2 separate regions of the Homo sapiens genome follow, and region 2 is linked to region 1. The links come from fine-mapping of genetic effects on gene expression. Tissue or cell type: anterior cingulate cortex. Region 1 holds a variant in brackets; the other region holds the start of a gene. All regions are shown on one strand. Distances are from middle to middle.

What was found. PIP is the estimated chance that this variant, and not a neighbour inherited with it, causes the effect.
Region 2: TMEM235 starts here. The variant in region 1 is the best candidate, but not a certain one, in a credible set for the expression of TMEM235 in anterior cingulate cortex (GTEx, PIP 0.55).

The regions. Positions count from the first base shown.
Region 1 is chr17:77,240,708-77,243,547 of GRCh38, forward strand. No RefSeq gene overlaps it. Among named protein-coding and RNA genes, the nearest start is that of LACAT1, 12 kb to the right of the region's middle. The variant G/A (reference allele first, on the strand shown) is at 1,586.
Region 2 is chr17:78,230,334-78,232,995 of GRCh38, forward strand. TMEM235 (transmembrane protein 235) reads left to right here and starts at 1,298. Exons shown (of 5, transcript NM_001395503.1): 1 at 1,298-1,880. The coding sequence starts at 1,691.

The DNA of each region.
Region 1 (2,840 bases):
GGCTGGTCTTGAACTCCTGGGCTCAAGCAACCCTCCTGCCTTGGCCTCCCAAAGTGCTGGGATTACCAGTGTGAACCTCTGCACCACGCCTGCATACTGTCATTTTAAAAGTCAGATCATCTCTTCCATGAGGAAGGGAGTAGAACATGGAGCCTCAACTGTGCGCATGATAAGAATCCGTGCTTCCCCCTGGGGAAATATCAGGCCTTATGGGCTTAAGTGCTCAAGCAAGAGGGACTTCAGCTTAGACGAAAGCATGAGCCTCAGTTTTGCATTTTCCTAAGGAGCGTCATCTGCGCCTCTAGGAGTTTTTACTATCTGAGCCTCCGGGTTCTTCTCCAGCCGCTGCTGAGGGCATGAAGCCATCTGGGGGTGGGGGGCGCAGGTGTGGAAGGAAGAAGCATATCCAGTCCCTTGGACGTGGCAGACTCCCAGTGTGTGTGGCGGCGCCCGCAGGAGGCAGTCCCTCTCAGCCGCATCCGCCTTGAGGTTGTTCTCAGTTCTGATGTGGCCCCAAAGAGAACCAGTTCCATTATGGATTAGTAAGAATTTATTTTGAACATGTTGTGGGAAGATGGTGACTGCAGGGGGTGCGGCGGGGGGAGGGAGCCCATTAGAGGCACCAGGTTCCCCTCCAGCGAGCCCCCCTGGACGTTGCTTCTCCCTGACCCAGCACCTTGGTAGACCCCCTTTGTTGGCCTGTCCACCCTGCTCAGCAAACCCAAACCCGAGGGTCAGCCGAGCAGTACCCCCACCCCGGCGTTCCCAAGCGGGCCCGGCGTGGGGTGACTCAGCTTGTTCCACTCCATCTGTTAGAAAAGGCACAGGACTGTCCAAGGCTGAAGCGGGGTGGGATTTTAGGGGCCCCTCCATGCAAACAAACATAAATCAACTTCCGTCCTGCCAAAAGCTCTGCTGATAATTGAGAGGCAAGCTAATGAACACAGCAGTTTAAAATTCACTCTCCAATATCTATTGCAGAATTGCATTGGATAGTTAAAAATCAAAGAGTCTAGCCCCCTAGACCCGGCCTGCTTCCTGGGGAGGCTGCCCCCGAGTTAGGATTTCACATGACACCTCCAGCACTTCTAAAGGGCCAACCCCAGAATCGCTCACTCCCCAGCACGTCTGGGCTGTGCGCGGCACCCCAGGTAAATGCAGCGGCCTCTGCATTAGCCCGCGCTGCTTAGAGACGCTGCCACGACACTTCTGCCCTTGAGTCCGGTTTTGGGGATGGTTGATGTGGGGACACATGAGCGAGTGTGGCTCCTTTTGTGGACTAGACTGCTCTGCACGCTGTGGGGTGCCAGCCTGGGAGGACCCTTTGGCCACCATCACCAGAAAGCCTTCAGCCCAAAGACCTTTCTCAGGCGTTTACAGTTTATCCACACTTTTCCTAACAAGACTCCAACACTTCCAGTCTCTTGGGAACTAATTGGGAGGGCAAGTAAACACCTCTTCAACAGAAATGGCTCAGGGGGGCCTGTTGTACACCCCCCTGTGTCCCAACAAACCTCTGCCAGCCTCAAACAACTGGACAAAATCCTCCTGAGGGCACCAGAAGTGAGCTGGGGTGGCTGGCGCC[G/A]CCTGGTAGGGCACAGGGCTGGTCTGCAGGGTCATGTGATTGGAGGAACAGCTTGAACTAGGTTGCCTGGCAGGTGGACAGGCACCTAACCCCGCAGCAGGTGCCATAAGCGATGAAGTGGGTGGAGGTCTTGGGGAGCGGTAGTGCTGTTCCAGGAGCTCACTGGGCTCCATACCGGCAGCTTCCCCACGGTTCCAGAGTCCTCCGGGCTGCTCGGAGCCTGGGCACCTCCCTGTGCCATTTCAGGGCCATTTCCCTGTGTCTCTCCCCCTCGCAGCACTTGCCGTGGGGCGCGTGAACCATGGCTACTGAGTGAACGCAAGAGCGTCGAGGGCTTTTGTCCTCTGACAAGTGCACACTCCCCCAGGCACCCACGTGGAATTTCAAACCCAGTCACTTCTTCCGGAAGACCCATAAATCGCTCCTTATTGTTGTGTGACTGTAAATGTGTTCTAAACATTGTCCTTTCACGCCTGCGTCCTCCCCTGTGTGCACACTTTATTAAACGTTGAAAACAACTCTTTATTATGGAAAATCTCAACCTCCGGAGAGTGCAGACAGCAGCCTTATGAACGCCTCCGGATCCAGCCTCTATATTTAACAATCGCTAACATTTTGCCATATTTGCTTCATCTGGTTTTCTTTTCTAAACTAATCTAAAGTCAGTTACTGTCTCTGTGACATTTCCCCCTAAATCTTTTTTAGACATTTTCTTTTAAAAATGACATTTTCTTTTACTGAACCACAATACCATGATCACAGCTAACAAAATTAACCCTGATTTTCTAATATCATGGCCTGCCCAGTCCATGTTTGTTTGGTTGTCTCCCAAATGGCTTTTCCAGCTGGGTTTGTTCAAAACAGGATCCCAGGCTGGGCGCGGTGGCTTATGCCTGTAATCCCGGCACTTTGGGAGGCTGAAGTGGGCGGATTATCTGAGGTCAGGAGTTCGAGACCAGTCTCACCAATGTAGTGAAATCCCACCTCTACTAAAAGCACAAAAAAAAATTAGCCGGGCCTGGTGGAGCATGCCTGTAATCCCAGCTACTTGGGAGGCTGAGACAGGAGAATCACTTGAACCTGGGAAGAGGAGGTTGAAGTGAGCTGAGATCATGCCACTGCACTCCAGCCTGGGCGACAGAGCAAGACTCTGTCTTAAAAAATAAAAATAAACAAACAAAACCCAGGATCCTGATAAGGTGCATGCGTTGCATTTGGTGGTTTCATCTCTTAGTCACCTTTAACCTGCTGCCTC
Region 2 (2,662 bases), 990 kb after region 1:
GGAGTTTGAGTCCAGCCTGGGCAACATAGGGAGACCTTGTCTCTAAAAAAATAAATAGAGTGAGAGAGAGAAGGGGAAGTCACCGGGAGGACACACATGGAGCACGCAGCCCAAATGGGGCTCCTCTGTTCTCCCTGCAGAGTCAGTTCGTACCTTTCACATGCACAAAGGTGTTGATCCAACCGAAGCAATATTGATTCTTGTTATATTGCTTTATTGTGGGGTCAGTGTCAGAGTACCACGAGTTTTCATCACGCACCGTTCTTTCCCCAGCTGCAGTGTGTTTAGGGGGGGAACGAGGCCCCACCCCCTATCCCTATCGCCTCTGCCTTTATAACGGCTGCTACTCTCTGAGCACCTGTTGAGTTCTTTCACCTTCCAGATCTAATGTGCTATCCCCACCCCTAGAGAACAGGGCTGCTGGATGCCACATGGCTCCCAGAGAGGGGCTGTGGTCAGGGAAGCCCCAGCTCCAAGGGGGCTGGAAAACCCCAGAGCTGCCCACGTGCGGCAACACAGTCTGGTGCTGCAGGTGTGAGGACGGCTACAAAATACCTGAGCCATTCTGTCACTCTGTCTGAACTCTGTTTGAAATATTGTTTCAATAACTGCTAGGCTGGTTTTTCCTTCCTGACTATATTCCTCAAACCAACAAGAGCCTAGCAGAGGAAAGCATGGCCAAAACGCCCCAAGAAGAGAGCCTTGGCTTCACCTCCAAGGGCCACCATCCGGGAGGATGTCCTCAGACCTCTGATCCCCTCTCTGCAGGCTCTGCCCAGCCCTGTGTGGCAACCCAGAGGAAGCCTCCCCTTCGTTTGAGATTTAACCCCAGACCTTAGGCGATGGCTGCCCAGCCTGTCCCTTCCGCCTGTGTGGCTGCCCACGCGGGCGTTGCTCATGGGGCTAGTCCTGGGTGGATGGGTGGGGGCCTCTCGCCGGCTCCTCTGCCTCCCACCCCCACTGGCACCCCACGCCTGTCCTAGAAGGTTCTTTCTGCCTGTTTTCTCCGTGAGTGACTGGACAGGCAGAGGCCGGCCTTGCTGGAGGGGGCATTTGTAATTATGAGTGAATCCAAAACAAGGTTTTTTCCTTCCGCAGCCCCCCGCCCGGCTGTGGGGCCCAGCCACTGCACTTCACCGGATGCCGTCTGGTTGGTCCTCAGGACTGATACAGACCAGGACCCCAGGGCCAGCCCGTGCCAGGCTCCTATGCTTCCAGGAGCACGGGTGGGTGGTCCTGCTGCCTGGCCGGCCATCCTCCTGGGGTCGGTCTCTGGCCGATCCTCCCTCCTCCTCTCAAGCCCTGCACAGCCCGGCCAGGCAGGTGCATCTTGTTTGGCTGCTGAGGAGCCGGGGGTTCAGGGAAATTAAGGAACGTGCCCAGGGACCCGGGGCCAGCCCGTGGGGACGCTGGGATTGGAGCCCAAGCCCCAGGTTCGCCGCGCGGCTCTCGACTTCCTCTCCTTTCCCCCAGGGGCGAGCTCAGCGACCGCAGAGAGGTGGGGTCGATCTCCCTGCGACCCCAGGGGGCCCGCGAGGCCAGTGCGCGGGCAGGAGCGGGGACGTGCTCAGAAGAGCCGGGCGCCGCCGCGCCCGCCCGCCCCCCGTCCCCCGGCTCCCGGCTCCGCGCGCCCCCCGCCGCCCCCGGGGCCCTGCTACCCCCGACCCGTCCCCTCCCGCCGGCCGCCCCCATGGCCCGGCTGGGCGCGCTGCTCCTGGCCGCCGCCCTGGGTGCACTGCTCAGCTTCGCGCTCCTGGCCGCCGCGGTCGCCAGCGACTACTGGTACATCCTGGAGGTGGCGGACGCCGGCAATGGCAGCGCCTGGCCCGGGCGCGCAGAGCTGCTCTCCTCGCACTCGGGGCTCTGGCGCATCTGCGAAGGTAACCGGCCACCGCGCCGGCCCTCCTCCCTCCGCGACCTCGTCCCTCCGACACCCCCTTAACCCCGCCCTGCTCGTGTTGCCCCGCCAGACCCCCTTCCAGGACCCCTCTCTTGCATCCCGCTCTGCCCCAGGGTGTCTCTCCGCTCCCTCCCCATCACCCTCCGTCTTCCCCCAAAACTGACAGCCCAAGGGCTACAGGAGGGAGGGAGCCCAGTTCGGGGCCCCTCACAGCCGGAGGAGGGGGCTGTGGGGCGACAGTGGGGGAGGGAAGCCTAGAGGTGTGTAGTTGGGGGGCCTCATCCAAGTCACCAGGGGTTGTTTCTTGATCACGCTCCCCGGGGTTTGGGCCTGGCAGCCCCTTGTCCCCGTCCCTGTCAGGCACTGTCAGAGCTGTTCACCCCACACCTCCTGATGCCGCGGGGGCAGGGGTTCCAAATGTGTACAGAGGCTTCAGAGTCCGGGGAGAGAGAAGGGGATCCCAGCAGGCTGGAGGGTCCACAGGGCCCCCTCCGTTCCCCCCAGCTCCCTCCTCCGGAGCTGGGGCCAGCCTGGGGAGCTTCCCCTTCACAGCGCGAGGGCTGGCAGGGCAGGGGTGTGTGTGTGAGTGAGCATGTGTGTGCATCTGAATATGTGTGCATGTGCTGAACATGAACATGTGTGAGCACCTGGCTGTGTATGTAAATATGAATATGTGAGTGTGAGTGTATGTAGTTGTGTGTGCATGTGAATATGAGTGTGTGAGCATGTCAGTGTGCATGTGTGTGCATGTGAGAGTGTGTG